Regions from separate parts of the Homo sapiens genome. Here regions 1, 2 and 4 are each reported to be linked to region 3. The links are microRNA targets in miRTarBase. Many come from high-throughput screens and were not tested one by one. Region 3 holds a microRNA gene; each other region holds the end of a gene's coding sequence. Distances are between the middles of the regions.
What was found. Region 3 holds the annotated microRNA hsa-miR-4267 (UCCAGCUCGGUGGCAC, at 868-883, opposite strand). A microRNA usually pairs through its seed, bases 2 to 8, with sites in the 3' UTR of a target mRNA and lowers its output. Matches are read on the target gene's strand: a 7mer-m8 pairs with bases 2 to 8, a 7mer-A1 pairs with bases 2 to 7 and ends in A, and an 8mer does both.

Region 1: miRTarBase lists LRRFIP1 as a target of hsa-miR-4267. Seed matches in the 3' UTR shown: 7mer-A1 at 1,233-1,239.
Region 2: miRTarBase lists SNAP47 as a target of hsa-miR-4267. The part of its 3' UTR that is shown has no 7-base or 8-base seed match.
Region 4: miRTarBase lists TGFBI as a target of hsa-miR-4267. Seed matches in the 3' UTR shown: 7mer-A1 at 2,122-2,128.

The regions. Positions count from the first base shown.
Region 1 is chr2:237,779,131-237,782,293 of GRCh38, reverse strand. It overlaps LRRFIP1 (LRR binding FLII interacting protein 1), which reads right to left. Exons shown (of 24, transcript NM_001137550.2): 24 at 651-2,872. The coding sequence ends at 2,762. Among named protein-coding and RNA genes, the nearest start is that of RBM44, 18 kb to the left of the region's middle.
Region 2 is chr1:227,780,170-227,783,332 of GRCh38, forward strand. SNAP47 (synaptosome associated protein 47) reads left to right here. Exons shown (of 5, transcript NM_053052.4): 5 at 358-1,057. The coding sequence ends at 504. Among named protein-coding and RNA genes, the nearest start is that of PRSS38, 34 kb to the right of the region's middle.
Region 3 is chr2:110,069,150-110,072,312 of GRCh38, forward strand. It overlaps MIR4267 (microRNA 4267), which reads right to left and starts at 893; the gene lies at 812-893.
Region 4 is chr5:136,062,758-136,065,757 of GRCh38, reverse strand. TGFBI (transforming growth factor beta induced) reads right to left here. Exons shown (of 17, transcript NM_000358.3): 17 at 1,940-2,572. The coding sequence ends at 2,532. Among named protein-coding and RNA genes, the nearest start is that of TGFBI, 35 kb to the right of the region's middle. RefSeq lists a silencer at 2,981-3,000.

The DNA.
Region 1 (3,163 bases), 130 Mb from region 3:
ACAGCCTCCTTAAGGTGTGCATTCTTCTGGTATTCCTCAAGGGCTCAGCACTGTACAAACCAGAAATCCAAATTTGCTAAGTAGTAACACATTTTCAAAAATATCAACAGGAACTTTTGATGCTTTAGTTGATATTTTGACTATGAAAATGAGGAATTCTAAAACACAAGAGAAAATAACATTTGATTGTAATTCTGAACTGCATTGGATTTTTATCTATTTATGTTATCCATTTATGATGTGTTTTGAGTGTTTTGCTCTATGTCCTAGATGTTATTTCATTTCTAAAAATGAAAATCATTCATAGGAAACATACAACAGGGATCCTGGTCTGGGTTTTCAACCATTTCTTTTCCAAATCTTCTAATTCAGGTTACAGCAGTGGTTCTCAATGGGAGGCGCTTTTACACGCCCCTCACCCCCGCAGTGGACATTTGGCAATGTCTGGTGATGTTTTTGTGTGTCATGACCGGGAGTGGGGTCTACTGGCAATGAGTTGGTAGAGTTCAGTGTTGCTGCTCAACATCCCACGGTGCAGGGGACAGCCACCCCAGCCACCAAGAACGACCCAGCTCCAGACGACCGTCGTGCTGAGGCTGAGAAACGCTAGGTTGCAGGGATGAAAGAAGCCAGCAACCAATTTCCATTCGTTACATCTGCAAAAAAAGTTTTATTTTACTAAATAAATTTAAAAATCGTGTTCTAGCTTCCTCTGGATTAGGAAGTGTGTGTAACATTGGTTTGCTGTTTCCAAAAGAATTGGTGGGAGAGGTAGAGACTGAAGGCTTGACTTCCTCAGAGCCACTGATAGGGAAAACGCCATCTTCTCAGGGCTGTGAGACACCTGGGAATCGATGCCTTGCAGCCCTGTTCTACCAGCTGGGAGACTTCTGCCAGTTCACCTTCCTGGACCCTGGGTCCCTCATCTGTAATGTGGATTTGATAACAGCATCTACCTCATAGAATTTCCGTGCAAATGAAATGAGTGAAAATATGTGAAAATTGCATGAGTGAAAAATACCTAAAAGCGTCAGCATGCTGCCGGCCGTGTCTGCGTGATGTGTGAGTGTTTGCTGCTGGTGTTATTCACGCATGACATAGACATTTTCCCAGTTAAACATGCTTGTATTCAGATGTTGTGGAAGAAACCTTAAGGATGAGACAAGGAACTGAATATCTCCCTTTTGCCGGTGGGCCCAGCATGGTCAGCACAGGGTCCCTGAGGGGCTTCGTCCAGCTTCCTTCCTCTTTCCTGTTCATACGGTGCCCGGGTGTGCAGTGTGGGTCTCCCAGTGGTGCCCACCTGCCAGCACATTTTGCTCACCTGTCCGACCCGTGGTTTCCTACTTGCCAGTGTTGGCCCCCAGCCCCCTATAACTTGTCTGCTTCCCAATGGGCAGTGGCAAATATCCTCTGCACAAGGAGATACAAAAATCTTGTGTATTTTAATAGAGATTTCATCTCTTTCTTAATGCAACGCAGCTGTGTATATCCTAGATCCATACAGTTCTGGGGGATGGACACTGGTGACCCCTAGCATTATGCTGGGAGTGTTTTCTTGATTATATACCCTGAACTCACAACCCTCACTCCAGCATTCTCCATGTGTTAAGACTAGATATGGTTTTGGATGATACTGACTCAGTTTCCACTTGCTAACGTCCCGAAAAGCTGACTGGCTTCACCAGCCATACTTGAAATACAACATATATGAACAGTCACTAAAAATCAGCAGGTAGCTAAACGTTTTTACTTTTGTCCTTGATGATATTGCCATCGTCTCTACTGTTACCTCCTCCTTCACTTCACTTTTTAAGTGCACTCATTCTGTGAAAACACCTTTTTTTTTAAATAGGGAAAGAAAAATGAATTGACTTGATATTCTTAAAAAATAAAAAGATGACCCAAAATATACAGAACCATTAATATGAAATTAAAGATCTTCTTTCTCAGTGGAAAAAAATTAGAACCACATTGCTGAAGTCTCTCAACATTTCATTTTTAATTTTTCTAATAGTACATTCTTTAAAAGAAGTTAACGACTTCAATTCCAAATATAAGGATTAAATAATGCAATGAAAAGCTGTCATTTTCAGTGAAGCTATTGCCTAATTACCCTGGAAAAAAGTATTCTTATGACTGAACTGATGCAAAAATCCCTTAGAAAAGCTTCATTTGTTGCCTGTAAAGAGTCTTCTTAAGGTCACTTTTACTTCTAGACTGCCCCCTTGTTTCCAGTGAAAGAGTTTTGCTTGGTAATGGCTTGTGGTTCCACAGTGTTTTGTGTATGAAAAGCGTAGACTAAGAGATACTACTGAAGTCGCTCAAATTGTAGATTCTGCCATGAAAGGAAGTCCCAACACTGTAACATTTCCCCTTAATCTTCAGCAAGACACATGAAAAAAAAAAAAAACTCAAGTCCCAACTGAATCTTTACTTTGATCATCACTTCCAGCGGCATTCAGAGGCTGCTGTGCGGTCAGACACAGAGCTCCCTCGAGGCCCCTGTGTGCTTATGAAGTACCTGCAGGTTCTGAGCGTCGGCGCCAGCCCGGGCCAGGGGTCTGCAGACAGAGGCACCTGGTGGCTGCTGGGGCTCCCTGGGGTGAGCCATGGCACGGGAGCCCCTAAGCGCCAAGCTCGCCACGGTCTTCGTCTCTCGGAAGGCAGGGGAAGAAGCAGCGCTCCCAGATAGGACAGAGAAAAGCCTATGAAACAATGCTCTCCAGTCACCAACCAGTTGCCTGATCAGAGCTGGAATTTACTGCTGGGACAAGAGTGCACTCCGATTTGCTTTCATTTTTTCCAGACGCTTCACTAAGTGGCCGTTGCTCACCTCGAGCTCTTCTGTTTTATCCAATGCAGAGCGGAGCTGGGAACGGAGGAAAGGCAGTGAGCTTTAAGGAACTTGTTTCCTCCAAACATAACAGGGTTCTGTGTTACCGAAATTCCAATCCTACTGAAAAATAAAATGATAACTTGGCCCCTGGTCCCTCATGATGCCCTTCCTCCTCTGAAACAACTGGACTCCAGAGAGGGAACACCCTTGGGGATCCTGATGGTTTTCTTTTTTTTTTCTTGAGATGGAATCTCGCTCAGTCGCCCAGGCTGGAGTGCAGTGGCGTGATCTCGGCTCACTGCAAGCTCCGCCTCACGGGTTCAA
Region 2 (3,163 bases), not on the chromosome of region 3:
CCACTGTGGGCAGGAATTCCACACCCACATGCAACGCTCCCACAAGGTCAGCCAAACAGAGCACTCCGCAGCCTGGAGATGGCAGGCCAGGGTGTGGCCACTGCACCAGGCAGGAGGTGCGGGCAGGCAGCTGGCAGGAGGTGGGGCAGGCACCTCATCTCATCAGGCCTGTACTGGCAGAGGCAGAGCCATGACCTGACCCTGGTGCTGGGCTGCCGGCTCCCTCCTGCTGGCTCGCAGATGGCATCACCCAGGTGGTAACGCAAAGGCTCTTGGGTGTGTGAGAGGGGGAGATGTTGTCTGTGCTAGAGTTTGCAGAGATGGCAGCCTCTGCTGTGATCTTGTGCTTCTCCCCAGATCCTGAGGAGGATGAAGGGGCTGGCCCTGGAGGCCGAGAGTGAGCTGGAGAGACAAGACGAAGCCCTGGATGGCGTTGCAGCAGCTGTGGACAGGGCAACCTTGACCATCGACAAGCACAACAGGCGGATGAAGAGGCTGACCTAGGGGCAGAACGTCCCTGCATTCCTGTCTCACCCTGCACATCCCGCTGAGATGGAGGGCTGGGCGGCAGTGCCAGGGCTGCAGAGGCCTGTGGCCCTCCGGAGTGGTCTTCCTCTGGATGGGGCTGCTACTGTGGGGCTGCTTCTGCACCAGGGGCCTCCCCAGGTGTGCACCATGCCTGCCTCCCACTTGGCTGTCCCTGCTGCTGGGCAGGACCCGGCCACATGTTCTGCGGATGCTGCAGAAGTGTGGACCATGGCGGGACCCCAAGGACACTTGGCACAGGCCTGGAAGAGGCCGCCCTCGTCTTGTCTCGGCTCCCTTTCATGGACAGACTGGCCTTCTTAGCTGTACTATAAATTTGTGAGTGAAGTTAGAGCCCAGCTCACTTAGCCAGCTCACTTTGAGGGCATCCTATAAACACCCAACTGTTCTTTTATCGTCTCGGTTTTAGCCAAAAGTGAAATTAGCATGACTGCATCTTTCAAACAAAAATATTGATTTCTGCTTTTAGGGCCCCGTTTCCATCCAGAAATAAAGGGAAATGCTGGCTTCAGAGTGGTTTTTGAAGATGGGTGCCAGTGTTTCCACCTGGTGCCTTGTGTCTGGGTCAGTGGCCACTCCCTCAGAGGCCCTGGGGTAGGTGAGCATGGCCTCTGGCGGGACTGCGCGTCACATTGCGGGTGGTGCCCCTTTGCCATGCTGCTTTCAGATGCCCCGTGCAGGGCTGCAAGGAAGGGTGCGGGCACATGGGAGGCGAGTCCCAGGATGGTGCCACGGCCCAGCCTGTGGGGCCTCCACGCTGGTGCACCCAATGCCCAGTGGTGCTGCCTTCCCAGGGCTGCTCAGTGAGCCTCACACACAGGGGCCCTCGCAGCTTTGCAGCCAGAAGCCCCACGTTGAGATATCCTGGGCGTGCTCCCTCCAAAGGTTCTGGGGAGGACCCTGCACGGCCGCCTGCCACAGGTCCAGGGCCCAACCTAATCCAGGATGGCCTGGTCTTGATGTCACTCACTGAGAATGTCTGCTAAGACCCCAGTTCCACAGGAGGTCCTGCTCTGAGGCTCCAGCTGGACTAGGGGCTGCAATGCCAGTCGCCAGAGCCAGTGCAGGTGCCTGGCAGGAAAACTGGGAAGCAGCCTCTCTAGAAAGCCACAGCCCAGGGAGCTCTGATTTTTTTTTTTTTTTTTTTTTTTTGAGAGGGAGTTTCACTCTTGTTGCCCAGGCTGGAGTGCAATGGCATGATCTCAGCTCACCACAACCTCCGCCTCCCAGGTTCAAGCGATTCTCCTGCCTCAGCCTCCCGAGTAGCTGGGATTACAGGCATGCGCCACCACACCTGGCTAACTTTGTATTTTTAGTAGAGATGGGGTTTCTCCATGTTGGTCAGCCTGGTCTCAACCTCTCGACCTCAAGTGATCCGCCCGCCTCAGCCTCCCACAGTGCTGAGATTACAGGCGTGAGCCACTGCACCCAGCACTCTGATGTTATTTTTTGTTTGATCTGGGAAATTGTTTTCTGCTTTTTCTTATTTGGTTTATACTTAGCAGCCTGCAGAAGGAGACCTTGCCCTGTCCCCTCTGGGGTCCTTCCACTAAGGCCACAGGTGAGTGAGTGCTCCCAGCCTGTCTGGACACCCCAAGGAGGCCAGTGTTGGCCCTCAAGCCTAGCCCAAGGCATGCGGACACCATGGCCCCCCCTCCTGTCAGTGCTGGGAGCCGGCAGCAAGGGCTCACCATGCCTGCAGCCACCGTGCAGACCCCCATCAAGCCTGGAAGAGGCTGCACCCTGTCCTCAGGACCTCACAGTGTGAGTGGGGTCTCCTCTGTCCCTGACCCCTCGCTGTTCTCAGGACTTCACAGTGTGGGTGGGGTCTCCCCTGTCCCTGACCTCTCACTGTCAGCAAGTCCTTGCAATATCAGGTGAGGCCTTTTGTGTCACTTGACCATTCCTTGTCCACTGGACCTCAAAACTAACATGATATACAGTAGTAAGAATGTAGAAACTTTCCCACTAAAATCACGACCAAGGCCCATACATCCGCTCTCACCATCTCCTTTCAGCACTTTAAGCTCTAACAGATGGAACAAGGCAAGAAAAGGAAGTTAAAGTTTAATGATACTGAAAGAAGAAACAAACTCTCTTTGTTCACAAATGACATTTTCCAGGTAGAAAGTGTAAAAAGGGATCAAGAAAATCCCCTAGAATAATGAACAACTATTCAAGATTTCAAAATATACAAAAGTTAATCACTTTCCTATATACCAACAATGGATGAGTGGATTTGAAGTTAAAAACAAAGTACTTCTACTTTAGCACCCCCAAACAATAAAATACTTAGGTACAAGTCTAAAAAAAGTGTACTCTTTCTATATATATGAGAAAAACTACAAAACCCTGATGAACAAAAGAAGAACCAAATAAATGGAGAAAAATTCCATGTTTATGGATAAGAAGACTCAGTATTTTCAACATGTTTGTTCCTTCCAGCTTGATCTATAGATTCAATGCAATTTCAATCAAAATCCCTGCAAGTTATTTTGTGGATATTAACAGATGATCCTAAAGTTTTTATGGAGAGGCAAAAGACCCAGAATAATCAATTCAATACTGAAGGAGAGGAGCAGAGTTGGAGGACTGACGCTACCTGACTAGAAGACTT
Region 3 (3,163 bases):
TGTCCACCATCGCTCCACCTTTCTCCATCACTCCTTACCTGACCTACCCCAACACAGGTGGCCAGAGGCAGGAGGGCTCCCCAACAGCTCCTACAGGTGTTCCCTGCAGCTTCCAGCCAATTCTCACAGAGCGACAGCTGTTCTTCTGGCCTTTGCTTGGGGTCTGAGCCCAAGCACATGTATCCACATGTGCGAGTTCAGGCTGAGCTCCCACGGTGGGCAGCACCTTTTGTGTGTGTGCCTGTGCATGTGTGCACACATATGTGTGAACTGTGCAGGCTGTAATTTCCAAAACCAAATTTGGCTTTTTTTGATTTGTAAGTTATTTACATCAACGAATTTTAAAGAAGCATAAAATGAAATTAAGTTAAAGTTTTAGTGGATCACCTCTGAAAAAGAAAAACTTTCATTCTGTGAAATTGGATTTCTAGAAAATTCCAGGATTCCCCACAGTTAAAGGCACAAGGCAGGGACAAATTCTGGCCATGTCACATGCAGGGGGCATGGGTAGTAAGAGTGGGAAATGGGGTTCGGGGCTCAGTTCCCCAGCACCTTGCTCTTCCTTTTTCTGACTCTCCTGGTTTGTCTTTTCTGGTGTCTGTGAGCCCCTCAAGGGCAGAGGCCATTTCTCATTCATCCTAGCATCCAGTACCCAGGGCCCAGCCTGTCATGAGGAGGTGCCCAGCAATCTGAGCGTATTTAAGACTGGGTCCTGATTCTGTCTTTTGTCCCCTCCTTGGGTTCCCAAACTCTCTGTATTCTGCTCCTTCACATTTAAATTGACCCCCAAACAGGATCTCCCAGCCTCCTTGGAGATGTGGGCTCCATGCAGGGATGACAGAGGCTGGGGTCTGGAGCCTTCCCCCAGTGCCACCGAGCTGGAGCCTGCTGAGTTTGCAAGTCATCACGGAGAATCCTCGGCTCCTTCGGAGATACCACCCCTGGGCCTACTCTGGGTTCTGAGATGGCAGCCCTAGTGCCAACCTCATCCAGAAGTCATCACTCCCTGGGGGACTGTGAGGGTGTCATCGAATATCTGCCAATCTGCTGACAAGTAGACATCCCAATGGCCATGGAGAAAACATCCGTGCAAGGGCTTTGATCCTCCGAGGCTCCATGAGAACACTGCTATTATAATAGTTACTAAGCCTAATAAAAAGTATAATGATAGAATATATATCACGATGTTGACCCAAAATGGCAATGTTTAGTTCTTAGGGAATTCAAAGTACACAAAGTCCTTGAGAAGGACACAGCTCTCAAAGAGACTCAGGTCACCTCCCTGCAGTCGTCACCCTCCCCGGTAGCCAGTGCAGGCACAAGGATCTGCCACTCCCTGCTTAAACCCTACCCCCTTCCAGAGCTCCCCATTCCCTGTGGGAAGTCACAGGAACACCCAATCCTTGTGAGCCAGACCTTGGCCCAGACTCTCGCCAGTCACCAGCCAGCTGGCTGCTGCTGTTCCGGTGCCCTTCCTCATGCTGTTCCCAGCGGACTCTCCCCACAGGCTGCCCTTCATCCTCCAGAGCTCCACCAGGGTGATCGTAGACCAGAAGGGTCCAGGTGCTTGACCAGCAATCATTCTAGTAACTTTTGGGAGGTCACACTTTCTAGGAGGCCTCTAGTAAGTCCCTCCCCTCCACTTCCAGCTGGGGCCGGTGACCCCTCACCCTAAGACGTGAGGCCTCTAGATCTGTCTTATTCTGCTCCCAGCCTTCCAGGTTCTGGAGAGCAGGAGGCCCTGGCCCAGGAACAGGCACCCAGCAGATGCTCAGCAGCCATGTGTGCAACAGAACTAAATCTTCCAGCTTTGGCTGAAAGCAAACATCATGGCTGTCTCAGCAGGCACGTGCTCCCAGGGTTGTGTCCTTCCTGGAAGATCTCAGCTTCTCCCACATCTGTGTCTCCTGAATCCACACCAAAGGAGCCTCGTTCAGAAGGGACCCCAGGACAGGGCACGGACACCTGTAATCCCAGCACTTTGAGTGGCCAAGGCAGGCAGATGGTTGAGCCCAGGAGTTTGAGACTAGCCTGGGCAACATGGCCAAATCTGTCTCCACAAAAAACGAAAAATTAGCAAGGTGGGTGGTGCACACCTGTAGTCCCAACTACTTGGGAGGCTGAGGTGGGAGGATCGCTTGAGCCTCACAGGCCAAGGCTGCAGTGAGCTATGATCTAGCCACTGCACACCAGCCGCTGCAACAGAGTGAGACCCTGTCTGAAAAAATAAATAAATAAAAAATAAAAGGAAGGAGCCCTGGGTTTGATTCGGGCCTCACGATGTGCCCTCTCACTGCACGAAAGTGGCCCAGGGGCACACTCTGCCCCTCTCTAGGAGGTGGTAGTGACCTGGGAGGGCCTTGGAGCGGATCTTTGTGTCCCTCAGTACATGGAGAAGTAAACTGAGGCACAGAGAGACGGGCATGTGTCCCAGATGGTGGGAGCCAGTGCTCGCTGGGGCAGCCCCTCCTTGGACCCAGCGGCAGAATTTCAGCAGCAGGTGGGGCCAAATAATCGGGTCCAGGGTGAGAGAAACACCTGTGTAAATTTGTCTTATAGGGCCCTGGAGAGGAAGGGTAGGAGCTGGGGCAGGTCAAGGTGCCCCTGGAAGCTTCTAGAGACCTGGATACACACCAGACAGCAGCGGCTGATGAAGGAAACAGGTGGGCTTTTAACAAAGTGTGGACAGTCACGATTCTTTCCCTGTAGCCCTGGGACCCCAATGTCCTTAGCCACGGTCCCTCAGCTGCCCCGGGAGCCGCCAGCATGAGCCGGTGTCCCGTTTTAGCGCAGGCGTGCCCTGGGACACTGCGGGCGCCCAGTGACCCGACTGAGCAAAAAGGGGCTTCAAGTGGAAGCCCCTCTTCCAGGCACCTCCGTGTCACTCCTGCGCCTGCATAGGGTGCCTTCCCGGTAAGATCCTGAGAGTTTGCACGGGCCGGTCCGGGCTCCCGGCTCTGCCCACCTGATGTCACTCGAGGACTGCCCCTCCCGGCCTTCGCGCGGAGCGCGGGCGCCACCCAGTGGTGCATTCGAGTAACCGAACCCAGCTCTCAGCCAGATCCCCGCCTCCAGCGGGCTCCCCAGTTATTTTCTCTTAAAAAGGGCCTTAACTCTATGTTGAATAGGAGTGGTGAGAGAGGGCATCCCTGTCTTGTGCCAG
Region 4 (3,000 bases), not on the chromosome of region 3:
GCTTAGCCCGAGTCTTCATGAGAAAAGAAGGGGTATGGATGGTTAGGAACCAAAAAAGGGAATCTGACCTTCTTTGGTGGGAGGGGAAGGCTGCGCCTTGTCCTCAACCACAGGGAGGATTTCTCTCCAGGGAGAGTTTGGAGCATAGAGTGGAGCCCACATTACTAGGGGGTGGGGCAAAGTCAGGGCAGGGAGTGGCAGGGACAAATGAAGGGGAGAACTGGAAACACACATCTTAGTGTTTGGCATTTATAATGGATCCTGTAGTGATTTTTACTTTAAATTTAAGGGTCTTTAAAACTTATGCTGATCACCTCTTTGGTTTCCGAGGTCATCTTGGTAAAGTGCAGTGTGTGTATTTTAGGTGCTCAAAGTGAAGCATAGCATAGGATACCCAGCATGAGCAAGGCCCTCACTAGCCGCCCAAGCCCGCATGGCTGCAGGGGAGGTGGGAACAGCAGGACAGAGCTATGGGAGAGTGACGGGAACTGAATTCACACCCAAGGTTAAGCCTTACCTCTCAGGACACCTTCTCCCTTGGTCCCCTAGCCTGATGCCTTCACCTTCAGGTAAGTTCCTTCCATTCCTCTCATCTCTTCCCACTTCTGGGAGCTCCTGGGCATTCCTGCTTCCAAATCCTTCATTATCTGTCACAGAACCACAGTGCTATCCTCAGAGTCACTAAGAACACACAGGCTGTAGTGCCATTATCTGGTTGACAATTCTCTTCCCCCCCATCAGTAGAGAAGCCTCATGAGAATGACATGTCTATTCCCCAGGGTCTAACATGGGGGTGCACATAGGTAGCCCTCAACAAATATTTGTGGAACCAATGGATGAATGATTTTAATGGATTGATGTCATATCTCTCTTTCCTCAGACTGGAAGCTATTTAAGAGAGGGCCTCTGTCTGCCACTACCATTGCTGTATTCCCAGCAGCAGTGGACTGACCAGCAGTAGTGCTGGGGATATATCTTTGGGTCATTGGTTCCATGAAGTGAAATGAGCTCCGCCTGCTGGAGTGAATCAGCCTTGGCAGAGATGGGTGTGGGTGGGAAGGAGGTCTGTCCCATTCTCTAGGAAAGTGGGCCAGCCCACCTGTGGGAAAGACACAAATAAAGGCTCTCTGGCGCATTGATCCTGAGCAGTCCCAGACGGCAGGATAAAAATAAGGCCACCTAATGTTGTACCAAGCATTTTATATAGATCATCTCATTTCATCCTCACGATGGACCCATGAAGTAGATGTGACGGTCATCTCCCTATTACAGAAGAGGAGACCCTGGGAGGTCACATGACTGGCCCCAGGCCACACAGGTAGGGGGCAATGGCACCACAACCACATGATATCACCTCTCAGAGTCCTGAGGATATTCTAGATGCCAGAGATTACGGGAGCCGGGGAAGGAATCTGAATGTGGGTTGGCACAGAGGGGATGGGCCTGGAAAACCTGGACTTATGCTGTTGTCAGTGGTGGTCACTGAGAGTCAGGAGGTGTGAGTTCCAGTCCCAGCTCAGCTATTTTACGTGCTGCTGGTGGTTCTCCCTTCCCTGGGCCTTGGTCTCCTCATCTGCATAATGGGATTATGCTGGCAACCACTTCACAGGTTGGTGCTGAGGACTCAAAAGTCCAGCACACAGGCAGGGGATCACCATGCTGGAGGGAAGGTACTTCCAAGTAATAAGAGGAATAAAGTGCGGGGTGAAGGCAACACTGAAAACTTGAAACCCCAGGACCGGAGGAGGGTGAAATAAAAACCTGTTTGGCAAAGACAGGCTCAAACCCCCATGAGCTGTCTGGCTGTCTGAGGGCTGGCTGCTGGAATCTCCCCAAAACCATCCCTCGGGGCTCCTTTCTGAGCTTCTCCAGAGCAGAATTGAGGTGTGGAGGAGCATGACGGCCTCAGGTCAGCACACTGTACCATGCACACAGGACGTATGTTTCTTTGGTTTTATTATTACAAACACACCATGGCTCTGTCACAATAGGGAAATCTAAGCTCTACATACCATTTCTTTTCTACCTGGACAGGGCCCCATAAAAGCCTCCAAGCCACGTGTAGATGTGAGACACATTTGACAGAACATTTCAACTCATAGCTTATAATGATGCCATTTCTCCAGCTGTGCAAGGGCTTTACAAAAACTGTGCCAGGACTTCCCATGAGGCTGGATTGCTTGATTCATGTTTTATGAGCCCCACAATACTGAAGCTCCTTTTCCAGGGACTTGGCATAGGCAGTCAATTCCACATTTGGGATAGGTCCTCTCTGGAAGTGAATGTCAGGCAGTGACATCCAAGTTTCTGCATGCAGTGGGTTAACAGCCATGTTTAGGGGGAACATGATTTAAAAAGTACATCTCTCTCCCTCCTCCCCCACATGCACAAGGCTCACATCTCATTATGGTGCGGCCCATGTACATTAAAGTGTGATACTTGGTTTTGAAAACATTCAAACAGTCTCTGTGGAAATCTGAGAGAAATTGGCGGAGAGCTGCCGTGGTGCATTCCTCCTGTAGTGCTTCAAGCTAATGCTTCATCCTCTCTAATAACTTTTGATAGACAGGGGCTGAAAAAGAGAAGTTGGTAACGTCAAATAGGTGCAGATCTCCCCATGTCTGTCTAGGACACTGTCAGAATCTCAAGGACCAGGGCCAAGCAGCCTCCTTCTGCCATGCTCTCCTGCACATAGCAGGTGCTTTGTGGTTTGTGAAACTTCACTCTTTACTCAAGGCCCGATGTTCTGGTTTTCTGTACCTATCAACTTGGAACTAGATCCTCACCATGGGTTCCTGCCAAGCCCTTTGCAATATTCCCAGACTTCCTAAGCTGAAAACTCACCTTAACCCTAAAAGGTTGTTACTCTTATTATCCTCATCTTACAGAGAAGGAAATGGGGTGCTCTGGGTCTGACCCCAAGTCACCCTGCTGTTCTGACTCCAAAGGCCAGGCTTCTTTTACTGCACCATGATGTTCTTATCTATATACAGCAGATGG